Homo sapiens: one gene and its partners. The protein of the gene in region 1 purifies or fractionates together with the protein of each later gene. This does not show direct contact. Each region holds a gene or a part of one and is shown on either strand. Other genes may lie near its edges.

Evidence for each region. The genes of interacting proteins can lie anywhere in the genome.
Region 2: the proteins of CLEC5A (region 1) and EMC8 purify together in Homo sapiens (affinity purification with mass spectrometry, with the first as the bait; one large-scale study listed by BioGRID). This does not show direct contact.
Region 3: the proteins of CLEC5A (region 1) and IMMT purify together in Homo sapiens (affinity purification with mass spectrometry; 2 studies listed by BioGRID and IntAct, with this or other methods). This does not show direct contact.
Region 4: the proteins of CLEC5A (region 1) and ECSIT purify together in Homo sapiens (affinity purification with mass spectrometry; 3 studies listed by BioGRID and IntAct, with this or other methods). This does not show direct contact.

What each region holds. Positions count from the first base shown.
Region 1 is NC_000007.14:141,936,975-141,940,474, forward strand, and holds part of CLEC5A (C-type lectin domain family 5 member A), read right to left. Parts: intron 1-3,500.
Region 2 is NC_000016.10:85,796,745-85,800,873, forward strand, and holds the start of EMC8 (ER membrane protein complex subunit 8), read right to left. Parts: upstream 2,801-4,129; 5' UTR 2,552-2,800; coding exon 2,321-2,551; exon of another isoform or gene 1-2,320. Other genes in the region: COX4I1 (cytochrome c oxidase subunit 4 isoform 1, mitochondrial), read left to right, coding at 3,124-3,140. UniProt on the Homo sapiens protein: Part of the endoplasmic reticulum membrane protein complex (EMC) that enables the energy-independent insertion into endoplasmic reticulum membranes of newly synthesized membrane proteins.
Region 3 is NC_000002.12:86,143,463-86,146,962, forward strand, and holds the end of IMMT (MICOS complex subunit MIC60), read right to left. Parts: intron 2,736-3,500; coding exon 2,606-2,735; coding exon of another isoform or gene 2,574-2,605; exon of another isoform or gene 2,098-2,573; intron 2,026-2,097; coding exon of another isoform or gene 1,908-2,025; intron 1,420-1,907; coding exon 806-1,419; 3' UTR 474-805; downstream 1-473. UniProt on the Homo sapiens protein: Component of the MICOS complex, a large protein complex of the mitochondrial inner membrane that plays crucial roles in the maintenance of crista junctions, inner membrane architecture, and formation of contact sites to the outer membrane.
Region 4 is NC_000019.10:11,519,135-11,522,634, forward strand, and holds part of ECSIT (evolutionarily conserved signaling intermediate in Toll pathway, mitochondrial isoform 1 precursor), read right to left. Parts: intron 3,417-3,500; exon of another isoform or gene 2,797-3,416; intron 60-2,796; 5' UTR 37-59; coding exon 1-36.

The DNA.
Region 1 (3,500 bases):
TCTTGAAGATAAGTACACAGTCCTGACAGGATCCCTTACCTGCTGATGAAAGAATTCTTGGGCCCTGAATAACAAGCAGCAATACCTAGGTAGTATGTTATGGGCCTTGGGTGAGACTGAGATGTCTTGGGCTTCAGATGAAACCCAGCACATTCTTCTGCTTGAGAAAAGAAGAGAGAAAAGTAAAGGGGGCTTTGTCTTGCACCTTATGTAACAGACTGGCCACAGAGAAGTAAAGGTCAGCTCTTGGGGTCCAAGATTCTAGGCCTTGACTCTTGGATAGCATTTCTGGACCTGCCCTGAGCCAGATAGGAGCCCACAGACATAAAGGGTAGGTTCTAGGCCTGGCAGCATTCGTGACAAGCTGACCAAACAGCCCCTGTGCCTTAAACAAAAATCAGTGGTAGTCTGGCAGTGACCCTGTGGGCCTGTGATGGTAGTGGTCATAGGGTGAAGCTCCTCTGCCTGCAGAAAGGGGAGGGAAGAGTGGAAAGAACTATGTCTCATGAATCGAGTTTCAGCTCAGCCACAGGAGGACAGAACACCAGGTAGATTTATAAGGTTTTTGACTCCAGTCCCTGGTTCTAAGATAGCATCTCCAGACCTATTTAGGGCCTGGTGGAACTCACTGCCCTGAAGGGGAGGTCACAGGCTTGGCTGGCTTCACCATATGCTGATTATAGAGCCCCAGGACATTGACAAAACATAAGCAGTAGCCATGTAGTGGTTACAGTGGGCCTTGAGTGAGACTCAGTGCTATGCTGGCTTCAGGTCTGACCCAATGCAGTCCCAGTGGTGGTGGTCACAGGGATGCTTGTGTCACCCCACTCCCAGGTCTGGGAAGGTCAGCATAGAGAAAGAGATTCTGTTTGGGAGAAAGTAAGGAAAAAGAATAAGAGTCTCTGTCTGGTAATCCAGATAAATCTTTCAGATCTTATCCAAGACCAACCAGGTGGGTACCTCTACGAGTCTGCAAGACCCACAGCATTACTGGGCTTGGGATGTCCCCCATGCAGATAGAGCTTAGGTCACAGCACCCAAGTCCTTTTGAATACCTGGAAAGCCTTCCCAAGAAGGATGGGTATAAACCCAGACCATGAAGACTACAATAAATACCTAAATCTTCTATGCCCAGACACTGATGAACATCCACAAGTATCAAGACCATTCAGGAAAACATGACCTCACCAGTTGAGGTAAATAAGGCACCAGGGACCAATCCTGGAGAAACAGAAATATGTGACCTTTTAGACAGAGAATCCAAAATACCTGTGTTGAGGAAACTCAAAGAAATTCAAGATAACACAGAAAAGAAATTCAGAATTCTATCAGATAAACTAAGAGATAGAAATAATTAAGAAGGATCAAGCAGAAATTCTGGAGTTAAAAAATGAAATTCACATACTGAGGAATGCATCAGAGTATATTAATAACAGAATCAGAGGGGTCACAGAAGTCAGAGGATACAAAAGAAAAAAGAATAAGAAACAATGAAGCACACTTGTAAGGTCTAAAAAATAGCCTCAAAAGGGCAAATGTAAGAGTTACTGGCCTTAAAGAGGAAGTAGAGAAATAGATAGGGGTAGAAAGTTTATTCCAAGGGATAATAACAGAGAACTTCCCAAACCTAGGGAAAGATATCAATATCCAAGTACAAGAAGGTTATAGAACACCAAGTAGATTTAAGCCAAAGAAGACTACCTTAAGGCACTTAATAATCAAACCCCCAAAGTTCAAGGATAATGAAAGGATCCTAAAAGCAGCAAGAGAAAAGAAGCAAATAATATACAGTGGAGCTCCAATATGTCTGGTAGCAGACCCACAGCGTTACTGGGCTTGGGATGTTCCCCAAGTGGAAATCTTATAGGCCAGGAGAGAGTGGCATGGCATATTTAAGTTGCTGAAGCAAAAAACCCTTTACCTTAGAATAGCGTATCTGATGAAAATATCCTTCAAACATGAAGGGGAAATAAAGACTTTCCCAGACAAATAAAAGCTGAGGGATTTAATCAACAGCACATCAGTCCTATAAGAATTGCTAAAAACAGCTCTTTAATCTGAAAGTAAAGGACATTAATGAGCAATAAGAAATCATCTGAATATACAAAATTCACTGATTATAGTAGGTACATGGAAAAACACAATATCACAACAGTGCAACTGTGGTATGTAAAGTACTCTTATCTTAAGTAGAAAGACTAAAAGATGAACCAATAAAAATGATAACTACAACAACTTTTCAAGACATAGACAGTAAAAACAAAGTTATAAATAGAAACAATAAAAAGTTAAAAAGTGGGAGACAAAGTTAAAATGTAGAGTTTTTATTAGTTTTCTTTTTTTGCTTACTTGTTTGTTAATGCAAGCAGAGTTAAGTTGTTATCAGCTTACAATAATGGGCTATAAGATAGTATTTGCAAGCCTCATAGTAACCTTGAATCAAAAAATATACAGTAGATATATGAAAAACAAAAAGCAGGAAATTAAATCATACCACCAGAGAAAATCACCTTCACTAAAAGGAAGACAGGAAGGAAAGAAAGAAGGAAGAGAAGATCAAAAAACAACCAGAAAACAAATAACAAAATGGCAGAAGTAAGTGCTTACTTATTAATAATAATATTGAATGTAAATGGATTAAACTTTCCAATCAAAGTACATAGAGTGGCTGAATGGATGAAAAAACAAGACCTAATGATCTATTTCCCACAAGAAACACACTCCACCTATAAAGACACATGCAGACTAAAAATGAAGGGATAAAAAGAGACATTCCATCCCAATGGAAACCGAAAAGGAGCAACAGTAGCTATACTTATTTCAGACAAAATAGATCTTGAGACAAAAACTGTAAGAAGACACAAAGGAGGTCACTGTATAATGATAAAGGGGTCAATTCAGCAAGAGAATATAACAATATAAATATATATGCATCCAATACTGGCACACCCAGATATGTAAGGAAAATATTATTAGAGCTAAAGAAATAGATAGTCTCCAATATAATAATAGCTGGAGAGTTTAACACTCTGCTTTCAGCATTGGACCGATCTTTCAGTTGGAAAATCAACAAAGTAACATTGGACTTAATCTATACTATAGACCAAATGAACATAATAGATATTTATAGAACATTCTATTCATCAGCTACAGAATACACATTCTTTTCTTCAGCATATGGATCATTCTCAAGGATAGACCATATTTTAGGTAACAAAACAAGCCTTAAAACATTCAAAAAATTGAAATAATATTAAACATCTTCTCTGACCACAATGGAATTAAATAGAAGTCAGTAACAAGAGGAAGTTTGGAAACTGCACAAATACGTGGAAATTAAACAATATGCTCCTGGATGACCAATCAGTCAATAAAGAAATTAAGAAAGGAATTGAAAAACTTCTTTTAACAAATGATAATGAAAACACAACATACTGAAACCTGTAGGATATTAAGACGGAAGTTTATACCTATAAGTGCCTGCATCAAAAAAAACCAAG
Region 2 (4,129 bases), on another chromosome or scaffold:
CCACCTCCTGAGGGTCAAAGGCTGGCCCGCTGCCTGCATGTTCCTTTCTCTGGGCAACCTGACTGCCCTGATTGCCCAAGCCTAGGCTGGCTGACTTCTCTCGAATCCCTTGCCACTTTTTTACTAAGCTCCGCCTGTGAGGTTTAGGTGCTGTGCTTGCTGGCTTGCTGCACCTTCAAGTGCTAAGCAGGTACTGTGTTTCATCCACAGCCATATCCCTCCTCAGCACGGGCCTGGCACAAAGCAGATACTCAAAAACATTTATTAGAAAAGTGAATAATCCCGCATAAATGCTACTGATGAATCTAGCTCCCTGCAAGTCAATGCATTTCACAGATCCAATAATTCTCTTGACAACAGAACAATTAAGATGGTTGGAAAGGCTGAGCGCAGTGGCTCATGCCTGGAATCCCAGCACTTTGGGATGCGGAGGTGGCCGTATTACTTGAGGTAAGGAGTTCAAGACCAGCCTGGTCAACACAGTGAAACCCCATCTCTACTAAAAATACAAAAATTAGCTGGGTGTGGTGGTGGACGCCTGAAATCCCAGCTACCTGGGAGGCTGAAGCAGAAGAATCACCTGAATCTGGGAGGTGGAAGTTGCAGTGAGCCGAGATCATGCCATTGCACTCCAGGCTGGGTGACAAGAGCGAAACTCCATCTCAAAAAAACAAAAAGATGGTTGGAAAGACCTGGATTAAAACACACACACACACTCCCCAGTGGTGTTTCAGTAATGACAGCAGATATCTTCAAGAGCTAAAATACTTAGTTTTATAAATATCATCTAAGTATTATAATCATCTGAATCCTACCCGGAAATGATATGAAGTTTAACTTTAACAGGCACTCAAAGATGTGCCCAGGAACCTTACGCCAGGACTCTTTGCCCAGAGATACTTCTTGCTTGCCCAGAACTGACTTGGGTGTCATAATTAGTTAAGTTATAAATGGTAGATTATGAAATGGCTTCGTTTTACTTGGTGGAGGAGGGACACAGATAAAGAAATTCTACTTACACCTTCTCAAGCTTAGCTACTTCTTACATCAATTAGCTACTATTTTTTAGCATCACAGTTTATTCTTAAATGAAAAACAAACAGCACCTCAGCTCAGGTATGCAGGTCTGAAGCTACAGTTTACTTTTCCTTCAGGTTTTAACAACTCGATGGAATTTATAGATGGTCTTTTTCCCTTCATTGATCACCGGAACTGAAAAGCTACTGCCTAAAATTCACTTACCAACTAGTCTACCTGCATGCTACATCTTTTTTCCCACTGTACTTCAATAAAGCTGTCATTGCAAACAAAAACATAAAAGCGTGTTGGACAGATCGTCTGCTCCTGCTGTTTAATGTCACAGAAATTCGTTTTTTTTTTTTTTTTTTTTTTTTTGAGACGGAGTCTTGCTCTGTCACCCAGGCTGGAGTGCAGTGGCGTGATCTCGGCTCACTGCAACCTCTGCCTCCTGGGTTCAAGCGATTCTCTTGCCTCAGCCTCCCGAGTGGCTGGGATGACAGGCGCCCGCCACCACGCCCGGCTAAGTTTTGTATTTTTAGTAGAGAAGGGGTTTCACCATGTTGGTCAGGCTGGTCTCAAACTTCTGACCTCAGGTGATCCGCCTGCCTCGGCCTCCCAAAGTGCTAGGATTACAGGGGTCAGCCACCGCGCCCGGCCCCACAGAAATTCTTTAGCTTTTAAAAGCCATGGAAACATTCTAGATAAGTTGTTAACCATTAACGGGAACAAATTCTCTTTACACAAAGCTCAGGCACATTCAATCAAGGGGAGCCAGGCCTAAGATGCATCACACAGATCTGACCATGCAACTACCTTTCTACAAGTGTCTGAGCTCCGGGGTGCCCGAGTACCGACAGCCAAAGAAGCATTTACACTTTGCCAGATAAGGAATCGGCTCTGCGAAGGTGCGAAGAACCAAATCCTAGCGATTAATGTCCCAACAACGTGAACACTTCCTGCAACTCGAAATCCTCAAGGGAAACTCTGTCGAATCCCCACCAAGTGAACGATGACTTGTTTCTACAAAGGCTACTGATTTCAGGAAACTAACGTATAACTCGTCGCCTTAAAGTGCCTCTAAAAGCATCCACGACGGTTAAAGTCGCTGCTACTACGGGACGCTATTTATTCAGCGCCAAGACCCAAGCGCCATCGTGGATCACCCCATTCCTGGCCACGGCAACCCTAGGGAGCGGGTCCTAGGAGCCTGCTGGAGGGCGACCGCTGGGCCAGCTTCCTCTCTGCTGACTGAGGGGAGGCCAGGCTGCCTGCAAGGGGAAGGGGCCCTTTCCGCGCTTACCAGGGTGAGAGCCACCTCCAGCATGGGGGCGAGGGCCAGGGTGCCGTGGAAGAGGGGGATGCAGTCCACGAAGAGGGTGTGGTGGGCGCCGGGGCCGCCCAGGGGGAGGTGCTCCTTACGCGGCTTCTGCTTCTCGGCCACCAGGAGCCCGTTGACGGCGCAGTGCGGGTACTTGGCGCCGTGCAGCACCATCTTGCAGTAGGCCTGGGTGGTCAGTTTCACCCCGGGCATGCTGACCCGGGAGGGCCCCGGAGGCCCCTGGGCGCGCGGCTGAGGCCTGGACCCGCTGCCTGGCCGCGCGGCGCCTCAGCCGAGAAGCGGGACGAGGCGGCGGCGATTGATGGCGCGGCCGCGGGCTGGCGGGGGACCCTTCAGGCCCGGCCCCGTTTGGGCCTCGGCTCCTGGAAAAGCGACTCGCGCCTCTGGGAAGCCGCAGCCCCAGACTCCAGTCGCGCTTCTCGCCCGGCGCCGCCGGAAAGCAGCCTCTCCAACGCCTGCCGGAAAGCAGCCCGGCCCGGCATTTTACGACGTTCGCAGCGCTACCCTTTTCCGCTCCACGGTGACCTCCGTGCGGCCGGGTGCGGGCGGAGTCTTCCTCGATCCCGTGGTGCTCCGCGGCGCGGCCTTGCTCTCTTCCGGTCGCGGGACACCGGGTGTAGAGGGCGGTCGCGGCGGGCAGTGGCGGCAGGTGAGACAGGAGGTGGCCGGTGCGGCGCCGCCAGGCCGGGCCGGGTCGGGGGGCCGGGAGCCATCAAGTCTGCACGTCCGCAGCCTGGCCGCTCGGCTTCAGCAGGAAGCACCGAATGGGCCTCGGAGCCAGGTGACATTGAGGCCGGCCCGTGGGGACTCCGGGCTCGGTGGCTCCAGGCTCGGGGGGCCGCCCCGAAGTGCCCGGTCCATCTTACCCGGTCTCGCAGCGGCTGCGGACCGGCCTCGGGCACTGACCTTGGAGCGCCCGCTGGCCGAGGGCTCAGGCTGCGGGGAGGCGGGCCCGCGCTCTGTGCCTGCAGCCTCCGCCCTTGCTCCTTCAAAAGGTCCCTGTGCAACCCCTCCCGGGTTTTGCGGGGCTCCCGGGCGGCGCTCGGCTTTCCAGCCTGGAAGGCGCCTATTGTTTGCTCACGCAAGGGCTAGGCCCAAGGAGAGAAGCTAGACGCGGGCGTTCAGCCCTGACGTCATGCTTGTTTATTCTGCCCCAAGGAGGGTATTTCCCCACATCACTCTCACCAGTCCTCCGAAGGGTCGATTTAAAGGGGGCCGTGTAAGGTTGATGGGCCTGAATAGAGGAGGGCCCGGGTGAGGGGGGGTCTCATAGGTTTTCCGCTCTCCTCAGGGATTGGAAATTGATCGGGGCTGTGTTGGCAGCCTTCTCCAATTTCCCCTTCTAGTCTATGTACAGGCGGTATTAGGTTTTAAACACTCAGTTGAATGTGATGCGTGCCACGGTCCCTGTGAGCTGTCACCTCCCCCCACCGCTCCCTGAAGAATGGAGTCTGTCACGGCAGCACAGTGCTTTAATGATCTCTAGCTTTTTCAGAGTCACCTTGTTAGCATTTTTTCTTCTTGCCTTTTTTTGTTTGAGACGGACTCTTGCTCTGGTTGCCCAGGCTGGGGTGCAGTGGTGCGGTCTCGGCTCACTGCAGTCTCTACCTCCCGGGTTCAAGCGATTCTTCTACCTCAGCCTCCCAAGTAGCGGGGATTACGGGCGCCCACTACCATGCCCGGCTAATTTTTGTATTGTTAGTAGAGACGGGATTTCACCATGTTGGCCAGGCTGGTCTTGAACCCCTGACCTCAGGTGATCTGTCCGCC
Region 3 (3,500 bases), on another chromosome or scaffold:
ATTCACCAAAACCTTCAAAGGCAAAAAGCAGGCTGTGGACTTCTGGTGACGCAATTCACAGCCTGGAAACTGTGAGCTAGAAGTTCCTACTTCTGCTGTTGTTGTTTCTCAAGGATATTTTCTGTACATACAACAAACTAGAATTTTTTTTTTTTGAGACGGAGTTTTGCTCTTGTTGCCCAGGCTGGAGTGCGATGGTGCGATCCTGACTCACTGCAACCTCCACCTCCCAGGTTCAAGCGATTCTCCTGCCTCAGCCTCCCGAGTAGCTGGGATTACAGGCATTCGCCACCACGCCCAGCTTAATTTTGTATTTTTAGTAGAGATGGGTTTCTCCATGTTGGTCAGGCTGGTCTCGAACTCCCAACCTCAGGTGATCCACCCGCCTCAGCCTCCCAAAGTGCTGGGATTACAGGCGTGAGCTACTGCACCTGGCCAGAACTGTACTTTTTGAAAAGGGATAAGATACTCAGTTTTCATCTTGTTGCTTTATTCAGTTTGCTCCGAGGGCAAAATCAACAGTAGTAGAGATCACAAACATTATTTTGATTGGCCTCACAAGCCTCATCAGTAAAACCTGAAAAAACAGAAAATGTTACACAAGTTGCAAAGAAAGCACTCCTGGCGTTCACTGACATGATAGCAAATGGAAAGAATATAAATGCAACAGGTGTTAACATTTAGAACAGTACTTGTAAACCTGCTCATTTCTAGACAAGTCCGGGACTCTCGCTGCGAACCCTTCATCTATCACTGCTGATTTCCTTTGACATGAAATATGACTTTATGAAAATCTTCCTAAACCTCACTCTGGCTGCACCTGAGTGGTTCCTATTCCTACGGCGCTGGCATATGCTGTCAGGATTTCCACTATCTGTTTCGTTTCTAGGGTCATTCGGGCTTCCTTCAGCCAGTCCTGTGCCACTCGTCTGGATTCCCCCTTCAGCTGATTGACAAACTTTGCTGCTAGCTCCAGATCACCATGCTCAATGCAATAGGAAGCATATGACAGTAATTTAAATGTGTTTATATCCTCAGGGCAGAGCTCTGGGGGCGGCTTCAGTTGCTGAGGTGGGAATAGGAGCAGGGACTGTAGGTAGGAGAGGAAGTACTGGTACAAGCTATTTCTGGTTTCATCAATCATTGCTACCCTTCGGGCCAGTTTTTGAACAGCATAGAAACGGGCTCTAAGGGTCTCTTCACTGTACACCCCACGGGTCAGGGACTCTGGAGGGATAGCTGCGGTTAAAGCTTGGGTGAATTCATTATCAGAACAGTTGGCTTTGATGGCCTCAACTGCACTACCCAGCGGGATAGTAGGTGTTTCTGCAGATGAGGTCTTCATGCTGTACTTTAATGCCTCCACTGAAAGCCAGAGTTGGTGGGCTTTTCTGGCTTCCTCTTCAGCAACTGCATGGCCTACAAAGAAAAAAAGGCAAAGCCAAACATTTTTCTCTCCATCTGACAACATACATCCACAGAACTGATGCACATTCAACAAGCTACATCTACACATGTGCAAGATGAGGCCAGAGAGACTTTCTTACAACCCCACCCCCACCACTTATTTCTGGTGTATTTTCCTAGCTGGCCTCTTCATATCAAAGTCAGAAGTCATTCACATCTGCATGATATCTAATCCACATATTTTTACCTTTACTAGTTGAGAAAGAAACATATTATTTAAATTAGGCTAAGACTTAACGCTAAGGCCATGAGAAATTTTCTGCAAAGAAATGGGAGACTTCAGGGCCAGGCACAATGGCTCATGCCTGTAATCCCAGCAATTTGGGAGGCCGAGGTGGGTGGATCACTTGTGGTCAGGAGTTCAGGACTAGCCTGGCCAACATGGTGAAACCCTGTGTCTACTAAAAATACAAAACCTAGCCAGGCGTGGTGGCACGCACCTGTATTCCCAGCTACTCAGGAGTCTGAGGCAGGAGAATCGCTTGAACCCAGGAGGCGGAGGCTGCAGTGAGTCGATATCACACCACTGCACTCTACCCTGGGCGACAGAGCAAGACTCTGTCTCAAAAAAAAAAAAAAAAAAAAAAAAGAAATGGGAGACTTCAAACGAACTTAACAGACTACTGGATCTTGAAATTCCATGAGTATTGAATTTATTTTTATTGTTATGTGACAAAAAAAGATTCCATAACATCCTAAAAAAACCCATTTTATTAATACCCTCATTGTCATGACATTTCTCTTTCAATGTGGCACATGGAGGCCTCAGCATAAATACTGTCCATTTGGTAGTTGGACTCGGCAAATCACCACCTCCAGATAACCCACCAAGTCTGTGGAAGGCAAGCATGGGACCACACTGACCCCTAGCCCTTACCACCCAGGCACATGCGACATAGCCAAAGGATACTGGGTAAATAGCCTTGTAAATGGTGATTTTGTGTTTGTCATACAAGGTATAAATTTCTAGTTATATAGATTTTGCCATTACTTTTAATGGCAAAAACTGCAATTAAGTAGAGTGATTAGTATTTTTATGTCCTGATGTCAGTACATGTACCCCATTTTCCCTATAAAATTATTTTGATAAATTATGCTGAGGAAAATTATCTGTAAGATAAACATAGCTTATGCTTACTCTGAACAGCCTGTTCGATTCCTCTGAGTCTGGCATAGGCAGTATTTATATCCAGAGTAAAGTTGTCAACTTGCTCTTGACTGAGACGACGAAATTGTAATTCTTGTTCAGAGAGTTTCTCAGACAGGTTCTGAAATAAAACAGAAATAGTTCCAGAAAAAAGTGATACTCAATGCATGTCATGTAACTGTGTAATCTTCCAGCAACTACTTGCTGAAGCAAAGAGGGCCTTAGAGTTGTCACGAAATTCCTACATTTTGTGTAAAGTTTCAAAAATGTCCTGACTCATATTTGATGTATATAATATATTTTTTTTTTTTTTGAGATGGAATCTTGCTTTATTGCCAGGTTGGAGTGCAGTGGCACAATCTTGGCTCACTGCAACCTCCGCCTCCCAGATTCAAGTGATTCTCCTGCCTCAGCCTCCCAAGTAGCTGGGATTACAGGCATGCATCACCATGCCAATTATTGTATTTTTAGTAGAGATGGGTTTCACCATGTTGGCCAGGATGGTCTCGATCTCTTAACCTCGTGATCCGCCCACCTCGGCCTCCCAAAGTGCTGGGATTACAGGCGTGAGCCACCGTGCCCGGCCGATGTATATAATTCTTTACAGGTTTACTGATGGAACCTAATATTAGAGGAGGCATACCAAGAGAAGAGAGAAGGCTGTTAAAGTCAGAAACAAACTGCCAACTGTATTTTATTTTTGAGACAGAATCTTGCTCTGTCATCCAGGCTGGAGTGCAGTGGCACAACCTCAGCTCACTGCAACCTCCACCTCCCAGATTCAAACGATTCTCATGCCTCAGCCTCCGGAGTGGCTGGGATTACATGCATGCACCACCATGCCCAGGTAATTTTTGTATTTTTAATAGAGACAGGGTTTCGCCAT
Region 4 (3,500 bases), on another chromosome or scaffold:
GCCTCGGGCCAGTAGGGTGGCCTGGACCCAGCTCATGCCTCTGCTTGTCAGACAATCACCTGGCCCAAAAGAAGATTCAGCATTAGCCTGGCACCTTACAGATGCTAACAGACGCAAGGGCCCCGCAGGGTCGAGGGCACACTCCAGATTATGTGGCTCACTCACCAGCCCCAATGTTTACCTTACCCAAGAAACAGGCTGATGACTCAAAGACTTTGTTCTTGGGACAGCACCCTAATCCTGCTGCCCCAGGGGCGTGATCATAGCTCAATGCAGCCTCCAACTTCTGGGCCCAAGTGATCCTCCAGCCCCAGAGCGTCGAGAAGCTGGGACTACAGACGCGTGCCACCATGCCCAGCTAATTTGAAAATAGTTTGCAGAGACCCAGGGTCTTGCTGTGTTGCCCAGGCTGGTCTCGAACTGTTGGCTTCAAGTGATCCTCCCATCTCTGTCTCCAAAAGTGCTGGGATCATGGGTGTGAGCCAGCACTCCTAGCCACTACAATCTAATTTTACAAAATCTGTGTCACTCCAACAAGAATCCCTGTACCTGGCCAGGCGCGGTGGCTCACGCCTGTAATCACAACATTCTGGGAGGCTGAGGCGGGCGGATCACTCGAAGTTGGGAGTTCGAGACCAGCCTGACCAACATGGAGAAACCCCATCGCTACTAAAAATACAAAAAATTAGCCGAGCATGGTGGCGCACGCCTGTAATTCCAGCTACTGGGAAGGCTGACGTAGGAGAATTGCTTGAACCCAGGAGGCAGAGGTTGCAGTGAGCCAAGATGATGCCATTACACCTCAGCCTGGGGAACAACAGCAAAACTCCATCTCCAGAAAAAAAAAAAAAGAAGAAAAAAAAAAAAGAAAGAAACCCTGTACCCATTAGCACTCAATTTCCCTTCACTCCCAACCCCAAGAAACCACTCATCCACTGTCTCTATAGATCTCCCTATGCCGGCCATTTCATACAAATGGAATCTGGAATCACAAGTGCTCCTTTATGATTGGTTTCCTTCACTTGACATGTTTTTTTTCTTTTTTCTTTTTTTCTGAGATGCAGTCTCGCTCTGTCACCCAGGCTGAAGTGCAATAGTGCCATCTCGGCTCACTGCAACCTTCGCCTCCCGGATTCAAGCGATTCCCATGCCTCAGCATCCCGAGTAGCTGGGATTACAGGTACATGCCACCACGCCCGGCTAATTTTTGTATTTTTAGTAGAGATGGGGTTTTATCACGTTGGCCAGGCTGGTCTCGAACTCCTGACCTCAAGTGATCCGCCAGCCTCAGCCTCCCCAAGTGCTGGGATTACAGGCGTGAGCCACCGCACCTGGCCCACTGACGTGTTTTCAAGGTTCATGCATAGATTTTTTTTTAATTTTTATTATTTTTATTTTTAGACAGGATCTTGCTTTGTTTCCCAGGCTGGAGTGCAGTGGCACAATCTCAGCTCACTGCAACCTCTGCTTTCCGGGCTCACGATTCTCCTGCCTCAGCCTCCTGAGTAGCTGGGACTATAGGTGTGTGCCACTGCATCCAGCTAATTTATAGATTTTTTTGTAGAGATGGGGTTTCGCCATGTTGCCAAGCTGGTCTCAAACTCCTTACCTTGTGATCCGTCCGCCTCAGCCTCCCGAAGTGCTGGGATTATAGTCGTGAGCCACCGCACCCGGGCTTTTTTTTTTTTGAGATGGAGTTTCATTCTTGTTGCCCAGGCTGGATTGCAATGGCATGATCTTGGCTCACTGCAACCTCTGCCTCCCGGGTTCAAGTGATTCTCCTGCCTCAGCCTCCCAAGTAGCTGGGATTACAGGCACCCGCCACCATACCCAGCTAATTTTTGTATTTTTAGTAGAGATAGGGTTTCACCATGTTGGCCAGGCTGGTCTTGAACTCCTGACATCAAGTGATCCACCCACCTTGGCCTCCCAAATTGCTAGGATTACAATCATGCCCGGCCAATTCCACTGTTTTTGGAATGGAATATAACCAGGTTTTGTATGGCTATAACCATATTTTATTTATGCATTCATCAATTGATGGACATTTGGGGTTGTTTGCCAAATGTTTTTGACTGTTATAACTACTACTGCCATGAACATTCGTGTAGAAGTTTTATGTGAACACATGTTTATACTTCTCTTGGGTATATACTTAGGAGTCAAACTGCTGAGACATATGGTAACTACATGTTTAACATTTTTAGGAACTGCCAGACTGTTTTTGGGGATGACTGCACCATTTCACATTCCCATCGGCAACGTACAGTTGACCCTTCATCAACAAAGGCTTGAACAGCATAAGTCCATTTATACGTGGATTTTTTTTTTTTTTTTCAGTAAAAGTTATGGCTGTACGTGGTGGCTAACGCCTGTAATCACAGCACTTCGGGAGGTCGAAGCAGGCAGATCACCTGAGGCCAGGAGTTCGAGAGCAGCCTGGCCAACATGGGAGAGACCCTATCTCTACTAAAAAAACAAAAAAACAAAAATTAGCCAGGCTGGGGGCACACTCCTGCAGTCCCCAGCTACTCAGGAGGCGGAGGCAGGAGAATCACTTGAACCCAGGAGGCAGAAGCTGCAGTGAGCCAAGATCGTGCCACTGCACTCCAGCCTGGGCGAAAGAGGAAGACTCTGTCTGAAAAATAAGAATAAGACCAGGTGTGGTGGCTCACGCCTGTAATCCCAGCACTTTGGGAGGCCAGGCAGGATAATCACTTGAGGTCAAGAGTTCAAGACCAACCAACCAACGTGGCAAAACCCCATCTCTACTAAAAATACAAAAATTAGCCAGGCTCCTTTTGCCGGTGGCGGCAAGCATGGAGAGGATGCCATGAAGGCCTCGGGCACACTACAAGAGTACAAGGTGGTGGGTTGCTGCCTGCTCACTCCCAAATGCCACACACCACCCCTCTACCACATGCGAATCTTTGCACCTGATCATGTCGTTGCCAAGTCCCACTTCTGGTACTTTGTATCTCAGCTAAAGAAGATGAAGAAGTCTTCGGGGAGACTGTCAACTGTGGGCAGGCATTCGAGAAGTACCGCCTGCGGGTGAAGAACTTCGGCATCTGGCTGCGCTACAAACTCCCAGAGCAGCACCCACAACATGTACCAGGAATATTGGGACCTGACCACCACGGGCGCTGTCACCCAGTGCTACCGAGACATGGGCGCCCGGTACCCCACCTGGACCCATTCCATCCAGATCATGAAGATGGAGGAGATAGCAGCCAGCAAGTCCCACCGGCTGGCCGTCAAGCAGTTCCAAGACTCCAAGATCAAGTTCCCGCTGCCCCACCAGGTCCTGCGCCATCAGCACAAGCCACGCTTCACCACCAAAAGGCCCAACACCTTCTTCTAGGGGTAGGGCCCTCACCCAGGTGTGCCCCACGTAAACTCAGGAACGCCCCGGTAAAAAAAAAAAAAATTAGCCAGTCATGGTGGTACATGCCTGTAATCCCAGCTACTCAGGAGGCTGAGGTGGGAGAATTGCTTGC